Linked DNA regions of Homo sapiens. The protein of the gene in region 3 purifies or fractionates together with the protein of the main gene of each other region. This does not show direct contact. Each region holds a gene or a part of one and is shown on either strand. Other genes may lie near its edges.

Region 1 (8,458 bases), on a different chromosome or scaffold from region 3:
CTTAGAACCTTCACCAAAAGGAGTTTTTCTTGTAGCGATTCTCGAAGTCTTAGTAGGCATTTGAACTGGTCCTTTCACTTTGAGATTCCTTTCCTTTGCTCCTCTGATCAAGTCAGCACACACCTCCTCCAGGGATTTTAAGCTGTGGCTCATAAACAGTGATTCGAATTCAGTGAATTGCCACCTCCGGCTCCAAGGGTGTTTTTCCAGTATCTTTAAAAGCCACAGCTGCTGCGTGGCTTCCTGACCGACTGGTTCCTTGGCGAGAGCAACAGCAGTGAGTCAGGAGCAGGAGCAGAAGCGGGCAGACCACAGCTCGGCACCACTTTCGACGGTGTCTTCCTCAAAGAGCTCTAACTTTTTTTTTTTTTTTTTTTTTTTTTTTTGAGACGGAGTCTCCCTCTGTAGCCCAGGCCGGAGTGCAGTGGCGTGATCTCAGCTCACTGTAACCTTTGCCTCCCAAGTTCAAGCGATTCTCCTGCCTCAGCCTCCCGAGTAGCTGGGATTATAGGCATGCACCACCACACCCGGCTGAAGTATTTTTAGTAAAGATGGGGTTTCACCATGTTGGCCAGGCTGGTCTGGAACTCCTGACCTCAAGTGATCCGCCCACTTTGGCCTTTCAAAATGCTTGGATTACAGGTGTGAGCCACTGCACCCTGCCCAAGAGCTCTAATTTTTAAATAGCTTATTTACAAAGCACTCTATGCTTCAGGTCAAACATTTGTCAAGCATCTGCAATATGCCAAGAACTATACAGATTTCATTACCTAATTTTAAAATTAAATTAAGACCCAGAGAGGTAATAGGATCTATATAAGAATGCTCGAAATAGTGAAAATAGCCCTGTATCTGGAGGTTTAGCTCTGCCACTATCATGATTTCTACTGTACAATATACCCATGCAAGTCACTTTAAATTATTTCATAGGTTAAAGGCCTTTTTACTAAAAAAGAAAGAAAAAATTTTAAATTAAGTCCTTACTCGTGCCAGGACCTGTGCTAAAGTGTGTGTGTGTGTGTGTGTGTGTGTGTGTATATATATAACGTTTCTCATTTAAATCTCCTGAAACCTCTGTAAGATAGGTTCTGTTATTATCCCCATTTTACAGATGGAAACATGAGCTTAGAAATGCTAAGTCACTAGCTAGAAATAATGCAGCTAGTAGGTGACAATTATTTGAATAGAGTCTGACATCAGAGACTGTACTCTTTAAAGCACACACACAGTATTTGGATACTCTTGTATCACAGATAATATAGGGAATTTCAACATGTAAAACAATTCAATTAGTTCACAATTTTAGTCAATTTGGTACATATCATTCACATGCTTATAAACAGAAAATAATAGGAAAAATCAGTCAACAAACACCTGGGGAGAGAGGGAAAAGGCAACTTCATTTCTCTTTTGATAGGATTCTAAATACCACAAATAGGAGAAAACAGCCAAATCAAAAGTTAGGAAATCTGTAACTTCAACCTTCATAAAGCGTAAAGTGTGTCTTTAAGAAGCAAAGATTTAGGGAAGTGCCATTTGGGCACCTCTCACTCTCAAAAATGAGAGAGCTGTTCTCCTTTTTCTTTTTTTTTTTTTTTGCGACAGAGTCTCATTCTGTCACCTAGGCTGGAGTGCAGTGGTGCGATCTTGGCTCACTGCAACCTCCGCCTCCCGGGTTCAAGTGATTCTCCTGACTCAGCCTCCTGAGTAGCTGGGATTACAGGCGCATGCCACCATGCCCGGCTAATTTTTGCATTTTTAGTACAGACAGGGTTTCACCATTCTGATCAGGCTGGTCTCAAACTTCTGACCTTGTGACCCACCTGCCTCGGCCTCCCAAAGTGCTGGGATTACAGGTGTGAGACACCGAGCCCGGCCCTGTTCTCCTTTTTCTTTCTTTTGCCTATTAAACCTCTGCTCTTAAAACGCACCTCCCCCTCTGGCCCTGCCCCCCCCCAAAAAAAGAGGCAAAGATTTAAAAAGTTAACAGGAAAAGACTACTTTATCACATTTAGCTTGAATGCTAAGTAGTAACATTTACTAAGGTCCACAGTTTACTGCTTACTACACAGTTTACCACTTTACTACACAATAACCCACCCTGGACTGATGGCTTCTTCAGGAACACTGAGAGAATGTAAAATACAGGAATCCTGATAATTCTGCATTCTTCGAGCAATCATTATAATCAAGCTGATGTTTTTATCCGTCATCATTGTGTATAGTTCCTTTGTTGTAATTGCTCCTTTCTCTTTGGTCTCACATTTTTTCACTCTTTTCACCATTGCTCTTTTGGGTTTTGTCTTTGGAATCCAATACATTCTCCAAAGAAACTTTAGCCAATGTGCCACCATCCTCTCTTCCTGTTTCCTGCCTTTTTTGTTGTAGTTGCTGTGCTTCCTTCTGCCTGTCCTTTTCCTCAAGTTATTTCCGGACTTCAGCTTCTTTATATCTTAGTTTAAGGCTCTCAGAGAGTCTTTCAGCTTCTTCAATGGCTTTTTTGATGTTTGCAGTTCCAAGTATTGAATGGACGTAATCCTCTTAGTGCTTATTTTCTCTGGTTTAACTTCTGTCTTCTTATTGAGGTCTTTTAGTGAAGAACTCAGGTAGAGTTCTTTAGGAACTAAAGCCACAGCAGGCATGGTGAATTATCTTTACTTTTCCACGTTCACGATAGATGCTATATTTCCTTAAAAGTAGTTTTTTCCGTGGCGTCGGGTGCGCTTCACTAACACCAGCCTTCTTGCCAAAGGCCCATCTCCCAAGAACTCGAGGGAGAATTAGCCTTGGCTACCAAGATGGAATCCAGCCCAGCTCATCATCCTTTGCCCATTTTTAAAATTTTTTTTTGGTTGTGAGTTATAGGTATTCTTTATATATTCTGTATATTAACTCCTTATCAGATGTATTATTTGCAAATTTTTTCCCATTTCATGAGCTGCCTTCTCACTCTGTTCATAGCATCCTTTGATGTGCAAAAGTTTTAATTTTGATGTAGTTAAATTTATCTGTTTTTTCTTCTGTTACCTATCTTTTTTTTTTTTTTCCCTGAGATGGAGACTCACTCTGTCGCCCAGGTTGGAGTGCAGAGGCACAATCCTGGCTCACTGCAATCTCTGCCTCCTGGGTTCAAGCGATTCTTCTGCCTCAGTCGCCAGATTAGCTGGAATTACAGGCACGTGCCACCATGCCTGGCTAATTTTTGTATTCTTAGTAGAGACCAGGTTTCACCAGGTTGGTCAGGCTGGTCTCAAACTCCTGACCTCAAGTGATCCACCCATCTCAGCCTCCCAAAGTGCTGGGATTAACATGCGTGAGCCACGGCGCCCGGCCTGTTACCTATCTTTTGGTGTCCCTTTTCAATTGTTTTGAATCCTACTTAGCCCATTTCCTATATTAAGCCTTCTCAGACAACACTGAGAACTTCATCCTCTGTACTCCCACTAGTTTCTAAGCTGCCTGAGGGCGATGACTTATTTTGCAACCTCCCTTCAAATGAGAGGCCCTACGTTATCTCCCTTGAAAAGGGTTCACTTAATAAATCTAAGTTTACAGAGTGACAGCAAATGCCATTTGCTCAGTTAATAGCTGATGAATGAACAGATGAACGAATGAATGATGACTGAACACAGTGACACACAGATACGTCTCTGTCCACTTGAGATAATCCTGACCTCCTCAGATAAACCAGTGTATGCAAGGTTCTGGGCATCTTCTGGTGGGCTCAGGGAAACTGAGAATTGGATTGTCCTCTCTAGTATATTATGAAGTTGATCATTTAAGATGATGGGTCTCTGAGCCAGAGCCTGAGAATTACTTAATTTAAAAACAGATGAGAAGGTGGCACCTGGGTCTTTTTAATCTACTTCCACTGCACATGAGGAGATGAAATAGAACTGGTACTACTTACAAGGGTTTATAAAAGTTGATTTTAGTAGGTCTGTCCTCTCAGCTAGGCAGAGAACACTTGTATTTTCAGGTATTACCCGAATTTAAGCAACAGATGTGTTCCTAAAATTAACTAACTTATTTGTTTTATGATCATTTGTTCAGCACCCAATAACATCTAACTTTCAAGAGCTTATCCTATATACATGTCAGGCACCGTGCTAGGTGCTTTAAAAGCATCTGTCTTTTAATTCCCCCAGAAATCACAAGATGATATTATTCCAATGACAGAGATGAGGAAACTGAGTCTTAAGGAAATTAAGACTTCTTAATTTCCTCCGCTCTTAATTTCCTCCGCCTGTTGGTCATACATCTAATAAGTGGCTGAGGTGGGATTCACACTCATGCATTGCTTCTTCCTAGGGTAGAATCCTTATTCAGTATGCTGCCCACTATGTGCTAGATGCTACAGACACAAAGATATCAAGCAGATATCACCACCCAAGTGCAGTGCTAGAGACAGGCACAGCAGATTAGGGGAACATCAAGGAGGGCCACCAACTCTTTATAGGTGTTTAGTGAGCTGGGAAAGTCTGAGGAAGGAGGGTTGAGCTAGGTCTTAGAGGAAAAGGAAGTTCTGGAAAAATAGAGTGGACACTCAGTTGTTCTGCCAGCCCGGCACCATGTCTGGGAATACCATCCCTCTTCTTTTGGGAACCTTCCCACCAAGGGATTCCTCCATAATCTTACAAAATCCCTGATTCTGGTTGATTGGTTTAGCACTAGATGCCAACCTAAACCAAGGCCAATCAAACCCAAACTCTGAACAGACATCCATCCTTATCTAGTGGTAGAAGTTGAAGGATGAAACCCAGGGGCTATTGGGAGCTGTTTCCCAAGTGATTTTCTTTTGGGATCAGGATGATCCAGACCCAGTTATCTAGAGATTTTAACCGGAAATATTGGATATGACCTCCATCCGGTTCCGGCTTGGGCAGCCAGACCGGACTTGCAGGCTCTTGGAGGTCGCATCCTGTCCTTCCCCCGGCAGGTAGAGTGACTACAAGTCCCGGGATGCGCAGCGCTCGGAGTCGGGCGGGGGCCGGGCGGACCTCTACGGTGACGTCACCGTCCCGGGGCGGGCCAGGGGAGGGCGGGGCGGAGGGGCGGGTCTCAAGGCGGCAGAGCGCGCTGGTGCTGATGCAGGATGGCTGAGCGCGCAGGAGCCCGGGAGGTCTGAGCCGGGCGAGGCTCGCTCCCTGCGCATCGCCTCCTCCGCCCGCCGCGTGGTCGCGGGCAGGTGGGCCGGGGGGCGCTGGGCAGGGGCGGGGCAGGGCCAGGGCAGGCCGGTCTGCAGCCGGAGGGGCCGGAGCGGAGAAGCTGCCCACCTTCCCGGGCTCGGAGCGGCCGGGGCTGCTCAGCCGGCCGGGCTCGCGATGACCTGCTGAGAAGCGTCGTCGGAGGCTGCAGGAGGCGGCCTAGCTGTGGGCGGTGCAGCTCGCGGCCTCCTCCCTCGTCGTTCCCGGCCCCGGCCCCCCACCCATCCCCGTGCCCCCTCCCTACCGCCGGCCGAGATGGCGGATCCAGCCGAATGCAGCATCAAAGTGATGTGCCGGTTCCGGCCCCTCAACGAAGCGGAGATCCTCCGCGGGGACAAATTCATCCCCAAATTTAAAGGCGATGAGACCGTGGTGATCGGGGTAAGTGGCTGGGGCGTCTGCCTTCCCTGCTGCTCCGCGCCGCAGCTGGGCGCCCCGACGCCCCAGACGCAGCGGAGGTGTTTAGGCCGCCCCCTCGGACATTCCCGCGGGGCTGGCCTCTCGGGTGGACCTGACCAGAGACCCCTCGCCCCGCGCACTATGGTTCCCTCCCGGGCGGGTGGAGAGGCGGCCGGGAGCGGCGGGCCGGGCGGGGGTGGCGGGGGTGGGGATGGGGGGCGAAGACGGGCTCGGCGCCGCCATTGTTCGCCGGGTGGGGGCCCGGGTGGGCCCATTGTTCCCCACGCTCGCCTCGCCGCGTGGGTAGTGTGTTCGGGTGACCCTCAAGCCGGGTGCCCAGGCCCCCTTTAAAGTGTGAGCTCTGCAACCCGCAAATGCTTCTGGGCATCAATCAATTCGATTTACCAAACGCCTTGCCTCTTCTTCTCACGACCCTAGCAAAAAAGAAAGAAAAAGGGGTACAGGAAAATTTCTAGTCGCGTCTCGGAGCTCCCGCGGCAGTGTAGACGCGGCTCCCCGCGGTGTTACACCTGGCTCCGCGCGCGGAAGGCGGAGGGTTGGGGGAGTACTGGTGGCCTCGGTGTCCCCTGGAGGCCTGGTGTGTCTCCCGCTTCCTCTCACGCCTGGCTGCCCTGGATGTGGAGTCCCGGCTTGATCCCTCCCCTCTGGGATGACCTCCCTCCCATGTCTGCAGACCCTCTGATGCGCCTCACGCTGGGTGGAGAGGAGGCTGTGTCCACATCTGTGGGGCGAGGGGGCTCAGAGCGCAGTAGCCCCCTGTGCCAAGAGCAGAAGTTACTTCGTGCGGCTCGGACCCCCCTCCCTCTCTATCTCCCTTCCCCACCTTTTCTCCCCCACCCCCTCCCCCTACTTAGCTCCCTCTCTGCAGCTGGGGCTGCTGGTAGGGGGAGGGAACACCAATGGATTGTAGTTCTTAAAGGAATCTGTCAGATGAAACAAACCAGCTCGGTCCCCCGCCCCTTCCCCGCCCGCTGTCCGTAGCGTGTGTGGCTGATGGTGCCCCCTTTGTATGCGAGCCGCGTGGGGAGGGACCGAGTTAATGGGAGCCTCCCGGTCCCCGCTGACACGTTCCTGGCAGCCTGCTCCAGGCTGCTGATGCAGCCTTCCCGTCCCCAGCATTGATTAAGTGATGTCATCCTGATCACTGAGCATGCTCCGACTAACCCCCTCCTCCCCTTCCTCCAGTGGCTGGTGTATTTAGGTCAAGTGATTGACAGGTGACAGTTTACCGAGGGTATTGCAGGAGTCCGCCTGGCCTTTCTCAAGCGCCAGAGGCCGACGTTTTCCAGCCCGGGCGGTCCCCAGCATCTTTGCCAAGGTTGTCTGCCGCAGTCGCAGCGAAGGGCCCTGGGGACCAGCAGGTGCCAGCTGTACCGTAAGGCGGGAGCTCTCCACGCTAGAGGAGCCTGGGCAAGGCTCTGGCCTCAGGGCTTTAACCTGTACCTGGCTTTAAAAGGCTGCTCCCTTTGACGACCTCTTCTCACCTCCCCATTTTCACAGTCATCAGGAACGTCTGACCTCCAAACGCTGTGTGGATGGGCGATCATTCTGCGAGCTGACCTATGAGGGCAGGAAAGCGGGGTTTTCTCTCTGTTTAGTGTTAAACTTGCAGAGAAGATATAAGCTACGATTATTGATGAGGAAGGAAATTCTGCAGTTAATGGCAGATAAGTGTTAGTGACATATACATAGGCAGTACCTGGGGCAGTTAGTGACTTATTTGGTTTACAGCTCTCAGCCAGTATCTGCCTACAGCCTGATCTGCTACTTTCTGAGCCAGGCTGTGGTTTAGATAGAGTGGGAGTTACTGGGGACATCTAGTCCCTGCCCCTTGGCTTGTAACAATTTTTAAACAAATAATTGTGCAGTACTGGAACATGTTCTGGCAACCCTATTTTTTTCCCAGAGGTTTTGAAGAGCCTGAAGAAGTTTTTCTTCTCCCCTCCTCCCTCCTCCCCCATCCCCTTTCCCCTCTCCCCTCTCCCTTCTCCTCCTCTTCTTCTTCCAGAACCAATGAAATGAAGTAATAAATCATCTTCCTTGACCTGTATGCAAGGCAGAGCTCCTTAATTTTAGAATTATCCTTCTTTAATATGACATTGCTATGAGTATATATTTCCTTATCTAAATAAACATATATTAGTGGCTAAACAAATTAAAACCAAGTCACCATATTAAATAAGAAGTTTAAATAAAAATCATAGATGTGAATATACACATTGCTTTTCAACCGTAAAGTAAGTTTTGCTCATCCTACTATAATCCTTTAATACAACAGTTTTCAGTTTTTCTAAGGTAAACTTTTTATTGAAATGAAGCATTCATATAGAAAACTGTTATCATAAGTATACAGTTGGATGACTTTTCATAAAGTAAATGCTCCCTGTAACCACCTCACAGACTAAGAAACAGACATTTTGGGACCCTAGAAATCCCCCTTGTGGCCCTTCCAGTCCCTAAATCCCCCTGCTTCAGGGTAACCATGATTCTCACTTCTGATGCTATTAGTTTTGCTTGTTTCTTTTTAACTTTATATTACATAAAACCATAGAGTATGTTCTCTTTTGTGTGTGGTTTCTTGGGATTAAGTGTTATGCTTGTCAAATTCATCCTCATTGTTTTGTAGTATTCCATGATATGAATATACTACAATTTGTCTACTGACTGTTGATGGATATTTGGATAGTTTCCGGTTTGGGGCTAATATGGCTAGTGCTGCTATGAACATTCGTTTATGTATATTTTGGTGAGTGCATGTACAGAATAGAAGACTGCCAGATACTGAAGGGTTTGGGAGTTGGGTTGGCATGTGCCAGGATCCTTCCCATTCC
Region 2 (7,583 bases), on a different chromosome or scaffold from region 3:
TGACCAACATGGTGAAACCCCGTCTCTACTAAAAATACAAAAATTAGCCGGGCGTGTTGGCTCATGCCTGTAATCCCAGCTACTCTGGAGGCTGAGGCAAGAGAATCGCTTGAACCTGGGAGGTGGAGGTTGCAGTGAGCTGAGATTCTTGACACTGCACTCCAGCCTGGGCAGAGCGAGACTCCATCTCAAAAGAAAATAATAATAATAAAAATAAATAAATAAATACAAACTTAAAAAACAAAGCTTATGGGTCACTGTCCATTTGTCCCCCACAGGGTTGTACTGAACGCTTTGTGTCCAGCCCGGAGGAGATTCTGGATGTGATTGATGAAGGGAAATCAAATCGTCATGTGGCTGTCACCAGTGAGTGAGGATACAAGGGGATCTCTCGAGTCTGAGGATCCACTTGTGTTCTGTGTCCTCTGGGGTGGAGGGACTCAAAAGTGAGCAAGGAAACTGTACCCCCCAGAGGAGGAGGACCCCTTGTCTGTGGGACCCTGCTGCCTGGGAGATGTGGCAGCAGGGCTAGTCCTGGTGGGCACCTTCTCTCTGGGTGGGCGGGGCTGGGGTCAGTGGAAGCCGGGGGCTGAGGACCTCAGTTCTGCAGGGTGGTGCAGGTCCTGTTTCTCCCTTGCTCCTGCAGACATGAATGAACACAGCTCTCGGAGCCACAGCATCTTCCTCATCAACATCAAGCAGGAGAACATGGAAACGGAGCAGAAGCTCAGTGGGAAGCTGTATCTGGTGGACCTGGCAGGGAGTGAGAAGGTAGGGGGTCCTGTGGATATGGGGTGGGTGGAAGCCTTGGCTCTTTTTTTTTTTTTTTTTGAGACAGAGTCTCACTCTGTCGCCCGGGCTGGTTTGCAGTGGCACGATCTCTGTTCACTGCAACCTCCGCCTCCTGGGTTTAAGTGATTCTCCTGCCTAAACCTTCCAAGTAGCTGGGATTACAGGTGCCCACCACCACGCCTGGCTAATTTTTTGTATTTTTAGTAGAGAGGGGATTTCACTGTGTTGGCCAGGCTGGTCCTTGGCTCTTTTTTTTTTTTTGAGACGGATTCTTGCTCTGTCACCCAGGTTGGAGTGCAGTGGCACGCTCTCAGCTCACTGCAACCCCTGCCTCCCAGGTTCAAGTGATTTTCCTGCCTCAGCCTCCCTAGTAGCTGGGATTACAGGCTCCCGCCACCAAGCCCAGCTAATTTTTGTATTTTTAGTAGAGACGGGGTTTCACCATGTTGGCCAGGCTGGTCTCGAACTCCTGACCTCGGGATCCACCTGCCTCGGCCTCCCAAAGTGCTGGGACTACAGGCATGAGCCACTGTGCCCGGCCGACTCTTTTTTAACTAAAAAATGATTTGCATTGGGATATAATTCACATACCATAAAGTTCACCATTTTAAAGTGCAATTCAGTTGTTTGTAGTATGTTCCCAAGGTTGTGCAACCATTACGCTATCCAATTCTAGAGCACTGTCATCTTCTATTCACAGTCACTCTCCATTGTCCCCTAACCCCATCCCCTGTCAACTTCTAATCTACTTTCTGTCTCTATGGATTTGCCTATCCTGAACATTTCATATAAATGGAATCATATGGCTGGGCACGGTGGCTCACACCTGTAATCCCAGCACTTTGCGAGGCCGAGGTGGGTGGATCACCTGAGGTCGGGAGTTCGAGACCAGCCTGGCCAACATAGAGAAACCCCATCTCTACAAAAAATGCAAAATTAGCTGGGCGTGGTGGCACATGCCTGTAATCCCAGCTGCTCAGGAGGCTGAGGCAGGATAACCGCTTGAACCTGGGAGGCGGAGGTTGTGGTGAGCTGAGATCGCACCATTGCACTCCAGCCTGCGCAACAAGAGTGAAACTCCATCTCAAAAAAAAAAAAAGGAATCATGTAATATGTGGCAGGGGTTAGGGGCAATGTGGTGTTTGACAAGACAGTTTAGGGGAACAGAGGAAGGGCCTTCCCCAATCCCAGCCAAGCATCTCTGTTACTCCATCTTCTTCCCTGTTCCTTCCTTCCTCCGTGGACTGAGCCCTGGAACGAGGTGGTGACAGCCCTCTCCATGTGCAGCTGCTCATACACACTCATCTCTTACTGCCCTGGTAGGTCAGCAAGACTGGAGCAGAGGGAGCCGTGCTGGACGAGGCAAAGAATATCAACAAGTCACTGTCAGCTCTGGGCAATGTGATCTCCGCACTGGCTGAGGGCACTGTGAGTGATCCTTAGGTCCCCTCACCCCTCAAGCCACACCCCATCTCCTCCCCCACCTGCTAATGCCACCATATGATCATGCCCCAATTCATGGGTTGTCTGATCCCGGGGTGGCACCACTATCCTTTCTGATTCCCTGTTGAATTTTATTTGTTTATTTCTGATTCCTGGTCTCCTTCCTCCCCCAGAAAAGCTATGTTCCATATCGTGACAGCAAAATGACAAGGATTCTCCAGGACTCTCTCGGGGGAAACTGCCGGACGACTATGTTCATCTGTTGCTCACCATCCAGTTATAATGATGCAGAGACCAAGTCCACCCTGATGTTTGGGCAGCGGTCAGTGGCAGGGTCCCCAGAGGGATCCCTGGTACCCAGCTTCCCATCCCAGCCTCTGCGGCTCTCTCTCCTCAGGGTCACCCAAGTCTCATGTTGCTCTCATTTCTTTGTTCCTCTTCTCCTCACCCAGGGCAAAGACCATTAAGAACACTGCCTCAGTAAATTTGGAGTTGACTGCTGAGCAGTGGAAGAAGAAATATGAGAAGGAGAAGGAGAAGACAAAGGCCCAGAAGGAGACGATTGCGAAGCTGGAGGCTGAGCTGAGCCGGTGGCGCAATGGTTAGAGAGGGATAGGTGGGAGTGAGGGGCAGTGGGAAGAGGAGGAGGATGTTTGGGAGCCAACTCTGTTTGGGTGGTGTTTCTGGCCAGGCCAATCTCCTAGAAGAGGGGCTGTGTTTCTGGACAGGTGCAGTAGAGCAGTCATGGGGGAAGGGAGGGGCCTGACTACCTACCTCCCATACTCCCAAAAGGTAGAGGGTCCACCTGGCAAGAGAGTTCAAGGGGCATGGTGAGTGAGAAGGAAGAACTCGTGGATGCAGCTTCTTCTTCTTCCATCTCTCACCTCGTCTTGCCCCTTTGCAGGAGAGAATGTGCCTGAGACAGAGCGCCTGGCTGGGGAGGAGGCAGCCCTGGGAGCCGAGCTCTGTGAGGAGACCCCTGTGAATGACAACTCATCCATCGTGGTGCGCATCGCGCCCGAGGAGCGGCAGAAATACGAGGAGGAGATCCGCCGTCTCTATAAGCAGCTTGACGACAAGGTGAGGGCGGCCAGGCAGGGCACTGAGGCACGCCAGGTGGGATGAGAGGTAGACGATCAAAGAAAATCGCTTATATTGCCTCTTTCTGGTTTTAAAAGGGATAAATGCTTATGCTTGAAATGTGGAAACATCAATATAAATGTATGTAAGAAAATTAAAATCATCCACTATTCAGAGATAACACTCAACATTTTGCTTTTCTCTGTGCATATACCATGCAATTGAGTTATACTGTATAAGTAATTTTTTTTTTTGAGACAGGGTCTTGCTGTGTCGCCCAGGCTAGAGTGCAGAGGCACGATTGTGGTTCACTGCAACCTCTGCCTCTCGGGTTCAAGTGATTCTCCTGCCTCAGCCTCCAGAGTAGCTGGGATTACAGGCGCATGCCACCACGCCTGGCTAATTTTTGTATTTTTGGTAGAAACGGGGTTTCACCATGTTGGCTAGGCTGACCTCTGGCGATCCGCCCGCCTCGGCCCCCTGAAGTGCTTGGATTACAGGCGTGAGCCACCGTGCCCGGCCTGTATATGTAATTATACATCTGATTTTTTTCATTCAGCATTATATTATGCACAATTTCCTACTTCATTAATAATTCTTCATAAAAGTATTTTTATTTTCATTTATTATTATTATTTTGCTTTGAGAGAAAGAGTCTTGCTTTGTTACTCGGGCTGAAGTGCAGTGGTGCAGTAATAGCTCACTGCAACCTCAAACTCCTGGGCTCGAGGGATCCCCCCCAACCTCAGCCTCTGAAAGAGCTGGGACTACAGGTGCACACCACCACGCCCAGCTAATTTTTTTTTTTTTTTTTTTTTGGTAGAGTTGGAGTCTCACTTTGTTGCCCAGGCTGGTCTCAAACTCCTGGCCTCAAGCGATCCTCCCGCCTTGGCCTTTCAATGCGCTGGGATTAAAGGCATGCACCACCAGGCTAGCTAATATTTTAAATTTTTTGTAGAGACAGGGTCTCACTATGTTGCCCAGGTTGGCCTTGAACTCCTGGCTTCAACCGATCTTCCTGTAGGATATGGGGTTTCTAACTCAAAGCTTATACTATCTGGATTTTTATCAGGATCCTGCCTCTACCCCCAAACTTCTTACGTCTAAACTGGAAGGAGTAGCTTCCCTTCACCTGTCTTTCCCTGTTGCCTCCAACAGGATGATGAAATCAACCAACAAAGCCAACTCATAGAGAAGCTCAAGCAGCAAATGCTGGACCAGGAAGAGGTAATAGGAGGGAGGGCAGGACATGAGAGGAAAGGGGTTCTGTTCATCACTGGAAGGCATGGAATAGACCTTTTTAAAATCAGATGGAAGAAGGCGCTTTCTGCTTGGGGATTAATCACTCCCCTAAACAGCAGAAGTCTGGGAACCTCACTGGGGCTTTTCTTTTCTTTTCCTTTTTTCTTTTCTTTTTTTTTTTTAGAGATGGAGTCTCAATTTGTTACCTAGGCTGGAATGCAGTGGGGCAATCTCAGCTCACTGCAGCCTCGATCTTCCAGGGTCAAGCAGTCCTCCTGCCTCAGCCCCCTAAGTAGCTGGGACTACAAGTGCACCACCACACATGGCTAATTTTTGTAGAGATGGAGTTTTGCCATGTTACCCAGGCTGGTCTCGAACTCCTGAGCTCAGGCAATGTGCCCACCTAGGCCTCCCAAAGTGCTGGGATTACAGGCGTGAGCCACTGCGCCCGGCTGGGGCTTTTCTTAAAGCACAAATTTTAAAGTCTGGGGGCTTCTTCATTCTTCATTCTGTTGCCCTATTTCTATGAAACCTAAAGCCCACTTCCTCTTAACTCTTTATTTTGGGTAGGGTGGGGGCTCAGCTTCCCAGACCCAAGGCCATAGAAATGGTCACTGGCAGTGATCTTTCCCACATGCCACTCCTCTCCCTTGAAGCTGCTGGTGTCCACCCGAGGAGACAACGAGAAGGTCCAGCGGGAGCTGAGCCACCTGCAATCAGAGAACGATGCCGCTAAGGATGAGGTGAAGGAAGTGCTGCAGGCCCTGGAGGAGCTGGCTGTGAACTATGACCAGAAGTCCCAGGAGGTGGAGGAGAAGAGCCAGCAGAACCAGCTTCTGGTGGATGAGCTGTCTCAGAAGGTGGTAAGTGGTGTGCCAATGGTCCAACAGCTCCCTGACCACAGAACATCTCCCATGTCGAGGGGACCTCTGCATCCTTCCAGGGCTGTATGGTGGCTGCACCTCTGCACTGCTGTTCAGTGCATTGTGAGTCCCTCCCCAACCCTGTCACTGCACTTTCCCCTCACAGTCCCTCTGTCTTTCAGACTCTTCTGCAGGGCCTGTGTTCTCTTCATAGCAGCCCTCAGGGTCTTGCATGAAGGGAGAGGCCTCTGCCTGGGCTGGGCAAGGGAGCAGGAGGATGGCAACAGGAATGACCTGAGGGGCTGTCCCCAGGCCACCATGCTGTCCCTGGAGTCTGAGTTGCAGCGGCTACAGGAGGTCAGTGGACACCAGCGAAAACGAATTGCTGAGGTGCTGAACGGGCTGATGAAGGATCTGAGCGAGTTCAGTGTCATTGTGGGCAACGGGGAGATTAAGCTGGTGAGTGGTGAGAGACAGCAGCCTTGTTCAGGCTGGGCACTAGTGGAAGACGCAAGATGAGCCATCCAGGCCTTCACAGATACTGAGAAAGGCAGCCAGAGAGCCAGGAAACATGCCTTTGAACTAGACCCAGGAAGACAGGTAGAGGCTTGTATAGACCCAATTGAAAAGATACATTCTAGGTTGGGCGCAGTGGCTCACCGCTGTAATCCCAGCACTTTGGGAGGCCGAGGCAGGCGGATCACTTGAGGTCAGGAGTTCGAGACCTGACCTCGCCAACATGGCGAAACCCTGTCTCTACTAAAAATACAAAAATTAGCCAGGCGTGGTGATGTGCACCTGTAATTCCAGCTACTCAGGAGACTGAGGCAGGAGAATCGCTTCAACCTGGGAGGTAGAGGTTGCAGTGAACTGAGATCACACCACTGCACTCTAGCCTGGGTTATAGAGTGAGACTCTGCCTTAAAAACAAAACAAAACAAAACTAAATTCTAACGGGTGCTGAATAAAGAAGCAATGGAGGCCAGGCATGGTGGTTCATGCCTGTAATCCCAACATTTTGGGAGGCTGAGACAGGCGGATCGCTTGAGCCCAGGAGTTCACGACCAGCCTGGGTGACATAGTGAAACCCTATCTCTACAAAAAATACAAACGATTAGCTGGGGGTGGTGGCACACACCTATAGTACCAGCTACTTGACAGGCTGAGGTGGGAGAATCACCTGAGTATGGGAGGTTGAGGCTGCAGTGAGACATGATTGAGCTACTGCAATCCAGCCTGGGTGACAGAGCCAGACCTTGTCTTAAAAAAAAAAAAAAAGAGGCTGTACATGGTGGCTCACGCCTGTAATCCCAGCACTTTGGGAGGACGAGGCGGGTGGATCACCTGAGGTCAGGAGTTCGAGACCAGCCTGTTCAACATGGAGAAACTCCGTGTCTACTAAAAATATAAAATTAGCCGGGTGTGGTGGCTCATGCCTGTAATCCCAGCTACTCACGTGGCTGAGGCAGGGGAATCGCTTGAACCTGGAGGCGGAGGTTGCAGTGAGCCGAGATTGCACCATTGCACTCCAGCCTGGGCAACAAGAGTGAAACTCCGTCTCAAAAAAAAAAAAAAAAAAATTTGGGAGGCCGAGGCGAGGTCAGGAGATTGAGACCATCCTGGCTAACACAGTGAAACCCTGTCTCTACTAAAAAAATACAAAAAATTAGCCAGGCATGGTGGCGGGCGCCTGTAGTCCCAGCTACTCAGGAGGCTGAGGCAGGAGAATGGCGTGAACCTGGGAGGCGGAGCTTGCAGTGAGCAGAGATGCGGCACTGCACTCCAGCCTGGGTGACAGAGGGAGACTCTGTCTCAAAAAAAAAAAAAAAAAGCAGCAGCAACAGAGCAGTGCTTGCAGTAGGAGTTAGAGGTGGGGCATAGGCACAGAGTTCAGAATGAAATATGCAAATCTGTGGATGTGAGAATAATCTGGGTGATCAAGGAGATCAAAAGAAAATCATGTTGCTTTATAAGATTTATTTGTAAGTGGGGGACTGTCAGAATTGGATTTTTTTTTTTTTTTGAGATGGAGTCTTGCTCTGTTGCCCAGGCTGGAGTGCAGTGGTGTGATCTCAGCTCACTGCAACCTCCGCCTCCCAGGTTCAAGCAATTCTTCTGCTTCAGCCTCCCGAGTAGCTGGGACTACAGGCACACACCACCTCT
Region 3 (7,583 bases):
TTAAAAGTAATGTTTATGAAAATATTTTTATGACTGAAAGGTACTCACACTAAAAATGTAAAGAAAATAAGCAGTATACATGATGATATGGACGGTATGGTTTGAAATCTGTAAACCAAAGGCACAGAAGGAAGGAAAGACATTAAAAATGTGAAAAGATGAATTTGGGTGATTCTCCTGTTTCCATTTCTGCATGAATTGGGTAGGTCTCTGCAATGAGGACATGAAGATGGATTTGGGTGATGCTCCTGTCTCCATTTCTGCGTGAACTGTATAGGTCTCTGCAATGAGGACATGTTATGGGCTCTGGGCACTGTAATCCCAGTCTAACTGCTTCTCAGCTACGGGGCCTCACACAAGTCACTTAGTCTGTGGTGTCTTTTTTTTTTTTTGAGACAGAGTCTCACTCTGTTGCCCAGGCTGGAGTGCAGTGGCACGATCTCGGCTCACTGCAAGATCCGCCTCCCGGGTTCACGCCATTCTCCTGCCTTAGCCTCCCGAGTAGCTGGGACTACAGGCGGCCGCCATCACACCCGGCTAAGTTTTTGTATTTTTAGTAGAGACGGGGTTTCACTGTGTTAGCCAGGATGGTCTCGATCGCCTGACCTCGTGATCCACCCACCTCGGCCTCCCAAAGTGCTGGAATTACAGGCGTGAGCCACCACGCCCGGCCTGTGGTATCCTTGCTTTTAAAATGGGGTAATGTTTGACCCGCTGCACAAGACTGCTGTGAAAGTGAAGTGAAATCACACATTTAAACTATTTAGCTTAGTGATGTACAAAGTTAAGTGCTTAATAAACAGTAACTAATACTATTAGTATATTACTATTAGTCAAGTCATTATACAATTAAATTCACTTGAAACGGGAGTATATTTCTTACCATCTACAGAACCAAACTCCCTTTCATGTGCACGAGTGAGAATCTCTTTGTACAGTGTTTCTGCTTGCTTGAACTTTCCTTGTTTCAAATAGCAGGATGCCTTAAAATAAAATAAAATAAAATATTTCATATCTTTCAGATGTAAATAAAGCATACATTTTAATCTCCAGTTAAATGAGAAAGTGTTTGGACTTGGGACGAAAGCACTCCTGGCCCCCTCCCTAGTGCTGTGCAGTCAACACACCAGGTTATTTTTCGTCTTAGCCACGTTGGGGTCATCAGGTCCCAGTTTTGTCTGGTAGATCTCGAGGGCTCTTTGATAATAATATTCTACTTCTTCATACTTGCCCTGGTTCTGGCACAGTAAGGCCAAGTTATTTAACTGCTTGGCAACATCGGGGTGATCCTTCCCCAAAACCTGAAAATAAAAAACAGCATATTAGAGACACTTGTTCTGCTTCCATCCAATCCATTCTCCACCCTACTGTCACATCAGGATCTTCCTCAACATAAGCACGACTGTGCTACACTTTCAGATTTAAATCCTTAACTGGCTCGCTACACCACGTAGTAATAAAATAACCAGAATTTCTCAAATTCTTATTCATGAGGGGAGGGAGGGAACTGTGCTCATCTTCTTTAGCTGTGTTAATTACTGTAGTAATCCTTCATGGTAGTTATATTTTTGTACATTGGTTGTACTATGTACAAATGTACACATTAGGCACATTTTGAAGATAAGGAAATGGGCTTTGTAAAGGCTATGTGAGTTTTACTGCCAGCTTCTGAAGAGCCCACAGCTGTCCCAGTTGCCCAGGATGCTCTTCTCCTAGCCCTCCCTACTAGCTACGACTTATCCTTCAGGGTTCTCCTCAGTTCCCCTCAAAGGAGACTTCCCTATACCACCCCACCTCACCTAGTGAACTCACAGGCACATCACCTGGTTGTTCTTTATAAGAATCACTTCTCTAAACTACCTTGAATATTTTTTATTACAATGTAAGCCCCAAGAGTATAAATTCTTTGTCTCTCTTCTTCACCAATGTAATCTCCGCATCGAAAAAGGGGTCTGGCACAGAGATAGATGAATGAACACTAACCTCCTCCCTCAGTACCTTGAACAAGTGATGAGTTCTCTCCGCTTTGTGCCTTTACACATGTGGTCCTCAGGGAGGTAAGCTGCCTTTCTACTCCCTTCTGCATTCCCTACCTCCCCCTGCCTAGGACACTTTTAACTCAATTATTCAAGATGCAGTTCCAACACCGACCTTCCCTGAGAAACCATCCCCAACACCCCCTGGCTCTGGCCCGCAGAAGCCCACACTTCATATCCTCCCAGAGCTCTCTATTCTAGATGCTGATGTGCCCTCTGCGGTCCTCAGTCTGTCCAGTGGACTGTGTCCTAGTGGGAGGAACTACATGTCTGATCTGTAAATCACCAACTCTAAGCAGGGGGCTCTAAATGAATGAAAGGGTAAATATATGAATGAATTTGGCAGGTCATCTTATATGGTTCCTAATCCTTAATTTGATACTTTTGTGCTCTCCCTGACTTTAACTCCAGCCCACCCCAAATTCAACCATTCTATTTCAGAAATATCATGCAGATTGACAGCATGATAAAATATTACCTGTATAATTTGATAAGGAGCCCCTTTTTATTTTCTCTCCCCCAATTCCTTGCCATGTGGCTCAAAATTAACTGATAAGAATCACTGATAAATAATCACAAAAAATACCAGGTTAAAATACCATTTGTGCGGCTGGGTGCAGTGGCTCATGCCTGTAATCCTAGCACTGTGGGAGGCTAAGGCAGATGGATCACCTAAGGTCAGGAGTTCTTGGCCAGCCTGGCCAACATGGTGAAACCCCATCTCTACTAAAAAATACAAAAATTAGCCGGGTGTTGTGGCACATGCCTGTAATCCCAGCTACCCAGGAGGCTGAGGCAAGAGAATTCCTGGAATCCAGGAGGCGAAGGCTGCAGTGAGCCGAGATCGTGCCACTGCACTCCAGCCTGGGCGACACAGCAAGACTCCGTTTCAGAAAAAAAAAAACACAATTTGTGGTCACTCATCGGATAGACCCAATACCCGAATCTTCATAACATCTAAAGAGATTGTCATACACAGCACTGCTGAAATGAACAAGTTGTTATATTTTTTAATACCTAATTACCATGAACTGTAGCAGCTGGTATTAAATATATATGACATTGACTTAATCTATAGCTCTGAGTTAATCTTTAGTTATAATAATAATTATTTCATTTTTCAGCTTCATAAAGCATATTTGGTGAATTTATCTTTAATCATGTTTTTCTTATTGACAAGCACATGTTCCACTGTCAAATGCAATGCTCCCAGGCTTTCCATCTCTAGTCCTCAGACATGTCTTCTTCAATCAGAGTCACTTCTAGGCCATATCAGGCTTGGACAGCATCAGACTCAGGACTGCACCTTTCTAAATGCACACGCCTCATAACTGGACCTTCTTTTCTTTTTTTTTTCTTTAGAGACGAGGTCTCACTATGTTACCCAGGCTGGTCTTAAACTTCCTAGGCTCAAGTGATCCTCCCACCTTGGCCTCCCAAAGTGCTGGGATTACAAGCATGAGCCACTGCACCCAGCCTGTAATTGAGTCTTAAACACTGATTTGTATGGGCCAATCTGGCTTTGTTTTGTGGGCTATTCTCTAATTAAATGAGTTGTTTTCAGCTAATAGTCAGTTAAAAACACATCACAGTGGTTATTTCTCAAAACCTAAAACCGAAAAATTTTTAAAAACACAAAAAACAGCGCCGGGCACAGTGGCTCAGCCTGTAATCCCAGCACTTTGGGAGGCCAAGGCGGGCGGATCAGGAGGTCAAGAGATTGAGAACATCCTGGCCAACATGGTGAAACCCCATCTCTACTACAAATACAAAAATTAGGTGGACGTGGTGGTGTGTCCCTGTAGTCCCAGCTACTTGGAAGGCCGAGGCAGAAGAATCACCTGAACCATGGAGGTGGGGGTTGCAGTGAGCCGAGATCACGCCACCGCACTCCAGCCCGGTGACAGAACGAGACTCCATCTCAAAAAAAAAAAAAAAACCACACACACACAAAACAAAAATCTCAAAGAAAACGACTGCCCCCTTCTTTTGTACCTTTTCTCGGATTTCCAGAGCTCTTTTACACAACGGCTCTGCTTCTTTGTACTTCCCTCTTTTACCATAAAGGACTGCAAGGTTATTCAAAGTCGCCGCCACCTGTCAACACAGAGAGAACCACTAAGAATGGTAAAAGATAACCAAATAAGAGTACATTTATACACCACATATTCATTTATATTCAATCTATACAGTAAAGCATTCTTAGTCGGATAGAACAATATGACTTCAGTTAAAATGAAAAGCGCAATTCACTAGAGTATAGATTATACAAAGTAACACTGCAGAATACTAAAATTAAACAAATCAACAACGTATTCCTGACTTTTTAAAAATTTCCCTGGAAGCCACAAAGCCAACCAAAACAGATTCATATGCAAATCTGACCAGATTTTAATGAAGACAATATAATTTTCAGAAAAAAATTTCTAGAAGGACATGCAATTTGATTTACAATCAAACAATACAGTTGGTGATCCATTTGAGGTGGGGTCATAAACAAATTAAGTGTGCTCTGGCCTGTCACTAGCACTGAGTAAGTGAAGACCTCCTACCTGCACCATCTAGGGAAAAGGCAGCACTTAAACTTTCCCTGTTGAGTTTAATGGTAAAATGAGTTGGATAAAAGAAATATATGGGGAAAATAAAATATTAAAAGAATGAAAGAACTGGATATACAAACCGCAGGATGATCTTTGCCCAAAGTTTTCTCACGAATAGCCAAGGCATCATTCAGTAGGTTAGCTGCATCTTTGTATTTATTCTGATCCCTAAATGGAAAAACACACATTAAGTGTTTCAGATGTAGATCACTACAGCTTTTCTTTTCTTTTCTTTTCTTTTTTTTTAGACAGAGTCTGACTCTGTTGCACAGGTTGGAGTGCAGTGGTGCCATCTTGGCTCACTGCAACCTCCGCCTCACGGGTTCAAGCAATTCTCTGCCTCAGCCTCCTGAGTAGCTGGGATTACAGGCATCTGTCACCACGCCCGGCTAATTTTTGTATTTTTAGTAGAGACGGGATTTCACCATGTTGGCCAGGGTGGTCTCAAACTCCTGACCTCATGATCCACCCGCCTAGGCCTCCCAAAGTGCTGGGGTTACAGGCATGAGCCATCGTGCCCGGCCTCACTACAGCTTTTTTAAATGTAATTTTCAACTACAGAAATAAAAGTTAAGCTTAAACTATTTAAGAAAAACCACAGGGCCGGGTGCAGTGGCTCATGCCTGTAATCTCAGCACTTTGGGAGGCTGAGGCGGGCAGATCACGAGGTCAGGAGATCGAGACCATCCTGGCTAACATGGTGAAACCCCATCGCTACTAAAAATACAAAAAAATTAGCCGGGTGTGGTAGCAGGCGGCTTTAGTCCCAGCTACTCGGGAGGCTGAGGCAGGAGAATGGCGTGAACCTGGGAGGTGGAGCTTGCAGTGAGCAGAGATCGTGCCACTGCACTCCAGCCTAGGCGACAGAGTGAGACTGTCTCAAAAAATAAATAAATAAAAAGATGGGTGTGGTGGCTCACGCCTGTAATCCCAACACTTTGGGAGGCTGAGGCGGGCGGATCACGAGGTCAGAAGATCGAGACCATCCTTGCTAACACAGTGAAACCCTGTCTCTACTAAAAATACAAAAAAAAATAGCCGGGCATGGCAGCATGCGCCTGTTGTCCCAGCTGCTGGGGACGCTAAGGCAGGAGAATGATGTGAACCCGGGAGGCGGAGCTTGCAGTGAGCATAGATCGCGCCACTGCACTAAAGCCTGGGTGACAGAGCAAGACTCCGTCTCAAAAGAAAAAAAAAAGAAAAAAGAAAAACCACAAGCTTATGGATGGGGAAAAAACACTGGAAGGAAATCCACCAATAAATGGACTGGCAAGGTGAACTCTGGAATCAGACCCAACTAGCTTCTGAACTTAACCTTCCCATCTAGGCCACTGGGAAGATAATGTCCCCACACTACAGTGTTGTCCTGCCTATGCCAGCTGGCCAGCACAGAATAAGTGCAACAGTCTAGAACAATGGACCAAGCTTGCATTTGGTTTCAGACAGAATTAATTCTAGTGTCTGAGCTTGGGCTCTACCAGTTAATGGCTACATGGCTTTGGGTGCATTACGTGACCTCACGCAGTCCCAGCCTTCCCATCTACAAAGCAAGTATATGATCTATTGCACAGTCTTGCTGTAAGAAGATGATATGCTACATGTATACTGAAAAAATATTTTAAAAAACAACAAACAAAAGTAAATATATTGTTGTGTCTGAACTTGGTACCCAGTCTCCCTCCATTTTGTTGAGTATGGAGGAACGAAGAATCTTTCTTGATTGGAGTAAAACAGAAACACCCCAGAACCAGAAACTCTCAGTTTAAGCGTGCTACTCACTACTGATGTGACTGAGAACAAGTACTTGCTTTTGAGACTTAGCACACATCTTTCTCAATTGAGTAGTAGTAACTGCCTGGCAAGGCTTTCCCCTGAAAAACGTGAGAAAGGTTAATAAGGCTTCTACAACCTCTGAAGCACACTAATTCTGGCCACGTATTAATATATTGTTGTTTCTTCTTTCATCCTATTACATCCTATTGTAAGCTGCCTCAAACTTTTTGTGAAAGTCAGCAAGTACAAAATAGAGTTCCAAAAAGTAGTGGCCAGGTGCGGTGGCTCACACCTGCAATCCTAGCACTTTGGGAGGCTGAGGCGGGCAGACTGCCTGAGCTCAGGAGTTCAAGACAAGCCTGGGCAACACAGTGAAACCCCATCTCTACTAAAATACAAAAAATTAGCCAGGCCTGGCGACATGCACCTGTAGTCCCAGCTACTCGGGAGGCTGAGGCAGGAGAATTGTAGCAAATGCAATTTAAAAATAAGCTACCAAGGCTGGGCACGGTGGCTCACGCCTGTAATCCCAGCACTCTGGGAGGCTGAGGCGGGTAGATCACCCGAGGTCAGGAGTTCAAGATCAACCAACATAGCAAGACCCTGTCTCTACTAAAAATACAAAAATTAGCTGGGTGTGGTGGCAGGCACCTGTAATCCCAGCTACTCGGGAGCCTGAGGCAGAAGAATCGCTTGAACCCAGGAGGCAGAGGTTGCAGTGAGCTGAGATTGTGCCATTGCACTCCAGCCTGGCCAACAAGAGTGAAACTCCGTGTAAAAAAAATAAAATAAAATAAGCTACCTAAAGTGTTATGAGAATTAAATGAGGCCGGACATGGTGGCTCACGCCTGTAATCCCAACACTTTGCGAGGCTAAGGCGGGTGGGTCACCTGAGGTCAGGAGTTTGAGACCAGCCTGACCAAGAATGATAAGACCCTGTCTCTACTAAAAATAAAAAAAATTAGCTGGGCATGCTGGCGGGCACCTGTAATCCCAACTACTAGGGAGGCTGAGGCAGGAGAATCGCTTGAACCTGGGAGGCAGAGGTTGCAATGAGCCAAGATGATGCCATTGCATGCCAGCCCGGGCGACAGAGCAAGACTCCGTATCAAAAAAAAAAAAAAAAAGAAAGAAAAAAAATGGCCAGGCACGGTGGCTCACGCCTGTAATCCC

Evidence for each region. The genes of interacting proteins can lie anywhere in the genome.
Region 1: the proteins of KLC1 (region 3) and KIF5C purify together in Homo sapiens (co-immunoprecipitation; 5 studies listed by BioGRID and IntAct, with this or other methods). This does not show direct contact.
Region 2: the proteins of KLC1 (region 3) and KIF5A purify together in Homo sapiens (co-immunoprecipitation; 8 studies listed by BioGRID and IntAct, with this or other methods). This does not show direct contact.

What each region holds. Positions count from the first base shown.
Region 1 is NC_000002.12:148,870,156-148,878,613, forward strand, and holds the start of KIF5C (kinesin heavy chain), read left to right. Parts: upstream 1-5,071; 5' UTR 5,072-5,462; coding exon 5,463-5,588; exon of another isoform or gene 5,589-6,040; intron 6,041-6,856; exon of another isoform or gene 6,857-7,187; intron 7,188-8,458. UniProt on the Homo sapiens protein: Microtubule-associated force-producing protein that may play a role in organelle transport. Has ATPase activity. Involved in synaptic transmission. Mediates dendritic trafficking of mRNAs.
Region 2 is NC_000012.12:57,566,848-57,574,430, forward strand, and holds part of KIF5A (kinesin heavy chain isoform 5A), read left to right. Parts: intron 1-278; coding exon 279-366; intron 367-646; coding exon 647-771; intron 772-2,115; coding exon 2,116-2,220; intron 2,221-2,408; coding exon 2,409-2,557; intron 2,558-2,687; coding exon 2,688-2,836; intron 2,837-3,139; coding exon 3,140-3,315; intron 3,316-4,473; coding exon 4,474-4,542; intron 4,543-5,213; coding exon 5,214-5,420; intron 5,421-5,732; coding exon 5,733-5,879; intron 5,880-7,583. UniProt on the Homo sapiens protein: Microtubule-dependent motor required for slow axonal transport of neurofilament proteins (NFH, NFM and NFL). Can induce formation of neurite-like membrane protrusions in non-neuronal cells in a ZFYVE27-dependent manner.
Region 3 is NC_000014.9:103,666,732-103,674,314, reverse strand, and holds part of KLC1 (kinesin light chain 1), read right to left. Parts: intron 4,805-7,583; coding exon 4,717-4,804; intron 4,134-4,716; coding exon 4,032-4,133; intron 1,302-4,031; coding exon 1,128-1,301; intron 984-1,127; coding exon 884-983; intron 1-883. UniProt on the Homo sapiens protein: Kinesin is a microtubule-associated force-producing protein that may play a role in organelle transport. The light chain may function in coupling of cargo to the heavy chain or in the modulation of its ATPase activity.